Regions from separate parts of the Homo sapiens genome. Here region 1 is linked to region 2. The links come from fine-mapping of genetic effects on gene expression. Tissue or cell type: whole blood. Region 2 holds a variant in brackets; the other region holds the start of a gene. All regions are shown on one strand. Distances are between the middles of the regions.

Region 1 (2,765 bases), 49 kb before region 2:
AAGTTCCCCATCTTCATTCCCACTCCATAGAGCTGATCAGTATTTTTACTTGCAGACATTAGTGGAGCCGTAGAGAAAGAAACCTTTTCTCCAAAAGAAGGCATTACTTTACACACTCCGTTCTGCAACTTGTTTTGTTCACTTGCTATTTCACGTCAGCCCATGCAGATGACTTAAAACAAATTCAAATGGAGAAAAGCCTTAGGCATGTTTTTCTCTGCACTAAAGAGGCCCTGCAGGTGGCTGTGGCCAACTTATGCAGTGGCTTCGAGTGAACGAACGTAATTAGTAATTAAGCAAAGCGGGCATCCAGGACATTCAGTTTCATCTTCCTGGCACTTTAGTGTTTAGGAAGGGCCTGGCCTCTCGGGGAGCGACACTCCTCGCCCGGCCACTTTGTAAGAAGCATCGAGCGTGGAAAAGGGGCTGGGGTCAGCACTGGGGCCCTCTGCCGGGAAGAGAGACTGGCGGCCAGCACACGCGTCTCCCCAGGCTGAAATGGGGCACCCTCTCGCGGCCCTTCCCTCCCTTCCCGGGCTGGGTGGCAGGTCTTGGCTCTTCTGCGAGTACCCCGCGGCTGCGGTCTCCCGGCACCCGCTGAGCAGCCTCGCCCGCCTTCCTCTCCCACCCGCCCCTGCGTGCTCTCCGGGGCTCCGGCTTCCTCGGTCTGGTGCCTGGTGCGTATTTTGGAAAATACCTGGCTCATAACCACCTCATTGAGCTCCCAGTGTCCCAGTGGGCCAGCGGACACACACGGGTAGCTGACTTCCCTAACGTGTCCCCAAAGCCTCCCTGGATTACAGCGCCCGCTGCTCCATGTGACCCCGCGGGAGCCAGGACGCGCCCCGCCTCCCGGGGCTGCAAGTTGCGCAGGGAGCGAGCGATGCGCAGCAGAGCTGGGCTCCGAGCCGGATGCGCCTTCCTTTCCTCTCCAGAGCAGGCTGCCCGCCCGCGGAATCCCGCACGTAGAGCAACCTCGCAGCACCCTCAGAACAGCCCCGCTGGGGCGCGCCGGGCTGCCGCGGTGACCTTTCCGACGCCCCTGACCCCGCATCCGGAGGCGGCCGGAAGTGTCGCCGGCCTCCTCCCGGCGCAGCCTCCGGGCCTCCAGTGCAATCACTACGCCCTGGGGCCCGGAAACCGTTTTCCGGTCTTTCGCTTTCGGCTGGGGCGTGGAGGCCGCGGTGCTGCGTAGGCCGGGCCGGGCGCAGGAACAGCCCCGTGGCGCCCTCTCTGGCCGCCGCCCGGGCGGGAAACGTCGTTCCGGGGACCGGGCGACCCCGCAGCGGGGAGCGCGCCAGGTCCGCGCGGGGAAGTGGGCGGTGTGCGGCCGGCACCGCCTCGCACCACGCCCCCGCGGGCCCGCACTTTCCCGGAGTGCACCCCGCGGCCGCCAGCCGGGGCGATGGCGGGGCTCTGGCTGGGGCTCGTGTGGCAGAAGCTGCTGCTGTGGGGCGCGGCGAGTGCCCTTTCCCTGGCCGGCGCCAGTCTGGTCCTGAGCCTGCTGCAGAGGGTGGCGAGCTACGCGCGGAAATGGCAGCAGATGCGGCCCATCCCCACGGTGGCCCGCGCCTACCCACTGGTGGGCCACGCGCTGCTGATGAAGCCGGACGGGCGAGGTAAGGGCCGGCGCTCCTCCTGGAGCGCAACGGGGTCCGCAGCCCCGTTCCCACCCTCCGATCAGCCAGGAACCCGCTGCTTGTGGCGCTGGCCGCAGGAGAGAGGAGCCTGTCACCCTGTGGAGAATGCACTCCCAGTTCTAGTCGTTGCCCCTTGGCACCCGCCGACACTGCTAGTGCCCCATCCCAAAGTGAGCATTTTCTTTGTGTGTAGCACAGGATGCGGTATTTCCAAACCCCTGCCCTCGGTCTTTTCCCACCTCACCGCTGCTCAGCTCTCAAAGCCCTGCCGTTTCCTCCTGCCTTGGCTTGGGAAGCCTTAGGAACAGAAGCTCCCTGGGAGCACAGAGCGGTTTTAAACTGGCCAACACCTTAACGCCCAGAGCCGCCCTCCTCTCGCTGCCACTTTGGAAAATAAGAGACTAGAGATTCACTGGACGCTTCCTCCCGGCATCACAAGACTTGACTGCTGCTTCAGTTCCCGCTTGACCTTCATACTTTAGCCCTTTAAAGGATGTTACATAATAACAATTAAGAGACGGCAGGGCCTTCAGGCAGACTTCTTTGGAGGGTGTCAAACGCCTTGTTTATTAAAGAGTGAATTTTTTAATTAAAATCATGTTTTAAAACAGAGATGGACATTTTATTGATGGAAAAAAATCACGTTAAGTTAGAAAGCTCTCAAAAGTACCTGGTATTTACAACTCCCTGTCAGGGAGGGCGAACTCGATCTCAGAGTTTTATTTTCATCAGGGATTACGTTGAGGTACCCAGAAATGAGAAGATTTGCCCAAAATGGCATATTTTAAAATTGGCCCAGACCAGAACCCAGTTTCCTCTGGGATTATTTGTTAGTAATCGTTTTACAGGCTGAGCATTAACTAACTCCAAAGCTTGAAGGACTTTTTCTCATTTTCACTTGTTTTCTCTAATAAAAATAATGCTGTAATTTCAACTTCACAAGATGAGGCCTCATGGAAGAGTGTTTACCAAAATATTAAAAATACTTTGACAGAAAAAAATCAAGCGAACTCTTTGCCAACCAAATATCATCATGACTGATGTAACAAGTAATCCAACACAGATATGAAAATCACACTGGTAAAAATCATCTCAGTTAATTCTAAAAGCAGAGCTAACCACCCC
Region 2 (2,765 bases):
ACAGTGACATAGGACAGTGATACTGTTATAGTTATAGGAAACTAGTACAGTGATACTGTTAGAGTTATAGGTAGAGTGATATAGGACAGTGATACTGTTATAGTTATAGAAAACTAGTACAGTGATACTGTTATAGTTATAGGACAGTGATATAGGACAGTGATATTGTTATAGTTATAGGAAACTAGTACAGTGATACTGTTAGAGTTATAGGTACAGTGATATAGGACAGTGATATTGTTATAGTTATAGGAAACTAGTACAGTGATACTGTTAGAGTTATAGGTACAGTGATATTGTTATAGTTATAGGAAACTAGTACAGTGATACTGTTATAGGTACAGTGATATAGGACAGTGATACTGTTATAGGAAACTAGTACAGTGATACTGTTAGAGTTATAGGTACAGTGACATAGGACAGTGATACTGTTATAGTTATAGGAAACTAGTACAGTGATACTGTTAGAGTTATAGGTACAGTGATATAGGACAGTGATACTGTTATAGTTATAGGAAACTAGTACAGTGATACTGTTATAGTTATAGGACAGTGATATTGTTATAGTTATAGGAAACTAGTACAGTGATACTGTTAGAGTTATAGGTACAGTGATATAGGACAGTGATATTGTTATAGTTATAGGAAACTAGTACAGTGATACTGTTATAGTTATAGGACAGTGATATAGGACAGTGATATTGTTATAGTTATAGGAAACTAGTACGGTGATACTGTTATAGTTATAGGTACAGTGATATTGTTATAGTTATAGGAAACTAGTACAGTGATACTGTTAGAGTTATAGGTACAGTGATATAGGACAGTGATATTGTTATAGTTATAGGAAACTAGTACAGTGATACTGTTATAGTTGTAGGACAGTGATATTGTTATAGTTATAGGAAACTAGTACAGTGATACTGTTAGAGTTATAGGTACAGTGATATAGGACAGTGATACTGTTATAGTTATAGGACAGTGATATTCTTATAGTTACCGTGGTATAGTTATAGTTAAAGGTACAGTGATATTGTTATAGTTATAGGACAGTGATATTGTTATAGTTATAGGACAGTGATGTAGTTACAGTGATATAGGTACAGTGATATTGTTATAGTTATAGGACAGTGATATAGTTATAGGACAGTGATATTGTTACAGTTATAGGTACAGTGACGTTGTAATAGTTATAGGACAGTGATATTGTTATAGTTATAGGTACAGTGATGTTGTAGCAAAACTGTAAGGTCATTCCTTGGTTGTGTCCCTATCTAGTGAAATGACTCTACCAGGGGTAGGGAAATAAAACTCTGTCGTTTCACACATAAAGGTAATTTCAATGGAATTATCCAGAAAATTGCCATGACATTCCACCTCATTTAGCATGTCAGGATGTTAATGACAAGATGTTACTAAAAGCAAATCCCTTACGGCCAGTTTTCCGCAGTACTGGGTGCTGGCTCTGTGCCTGGCCCTGTATTGGGTGCTGGGCTAGGATTTCCCTGTGGAAGATTGGGAAGGTTGGTTACAAGGTGGCTATTTTCCTGTCTCCTCTTTGCGACAGCACACCTTCTCCATGGTGTGTGCCAGGTTCACGTGTACTGGTGATTTAATTTTAACGTTCATATTATTTTTTTCTGGGAGAGTTTTTGAAGGCTGCCAGGAGGCAGGACTCGATGCAAACATGCTCCATTCTGTACCCAGCCCTGTTGCTGGAAGGATTT[G/T]CTGCACTTACCCAGGGAACAGGCAAGCTCGTGCTGTGGCTCTGGGCTGTCACAGCTGCTGTCCACACCTGGGAGAGCACCCTGGATGGCTCATCTGTGTACTTGCTTTCTTGTTAAATTGCAGTGAGTTCACATGTGATTTAATCGGATCAAATGGCCTTTACAGACTGATAAAAATATGGCTGTTTCAGGTGGTGTTTTGAGCTGCTAAGGGCGTGGCTTTTCACTGAGTACGTGGTCCCCGTTCCTCAGGGAACACCCAGTAGCCACATGCCTCCTAAACCTAGAGTAGGGCTGTCTCCTGGCCTAACTGCCCAAATGAGATTCATAAGTTAGGGATGATCTGTAGTTATCACTACAGATTTGTCCTTGGTTTCACCAAGGATTTTCCTAATTTTACAAACAAAACCCCTAAGGCTCCTGGAAGGAGGGTAGAAGTGAAGGTGCTCCGGGGGCAACACAGCTGATGAGCTGAACCAGAACTCGACCCTTGGGTCACACACATTTCACAGTGCTCACTCCACCTTTTGTTTTTTTAATGGATTTAATGGTGTTTTAAAGCCTCCTGCCTCTCAACACATATGAATTCATTATATTTACAGATTTCCTTCTCTTGTGGTCCATCTTCCTGCATAGATCTTGAGAGATGTCAGGCTAACCACGTTTCCTCAGTTAATTTAACAAAACCATTTGCAACTCTGACATGGAAAATTCCTACCATGTGACTTATTAATTTATCAATTGAGATGGTACACATATTTTCAAGCCAAAAGGAGGAAAACATAAATTGGAAAAAAAAGGTTTTTTTATTTTTATCACCTCTGGGGAAGAAAGTCTGATAAACGAAGCTGGTTGATAAAATTGCAATTAGGGGAAGCAACATCATGGTTTCTGTTCGGAGGCTAACCAGATGGCATACTTGAAATAGAGAATGTCCTAGAAATCAACTGGTTGCTTGGCCAAAATATCTATAAATAGTGCCCAACATATTAGATAGGAAAAGCAAAGTAAAAACAATTTTAACAGGTTAGGACATTG

The links. PIP is the estimated chance that this variant, and not a neighbour inherited with it, causes the effect.
Region 1: it holds the start of CYP4V2, and the variant in region 2 is fine-mapped to the expression of CYP4V2 in whole blood (INTERVAL, PIP above 0.99).

Annotation. Positions count from the first base shown.
Region 1 is chr4:186,190,419-186,193,183 of GRCh38, forward strand. CYP4V2 (cytochrome P450 family 4 subfamily V member 2) reads left to right here and starts at 1,149. Exons shown (of 11, transcript NM_207352.4): 1 at 1,149-1,619. The coding sequence starts at 1,406. It overlaps FLJ38576 (a long non-coding RNA gene), which reads right to left and starts at 1,072. Exons shown (of 1, transcript NR_046264.1): 1 at 1-1,072. RefSeq lists a silencer at 946-1,475.
Region 2 is chr4:186,239,167-186,241,931 of GRCh38, forward strand. The region is part of intron 6 of KLKB1 (kallikrein B1); the gene reads left to right. LOC124900873 (a long non-coding RNA gene) reads left to right here. Exons shown (of 2, transcript XR_007058497.1): 2 at 1-1,328. Among named protein-coding and RNA genes, the nearest start is that of KLKB1, 13 kb to the left of the region's middle. RefSeq lists an enhancer at 1,939-2,544. The variant G/T (reference allele first, on the strand shown) is at 1,728.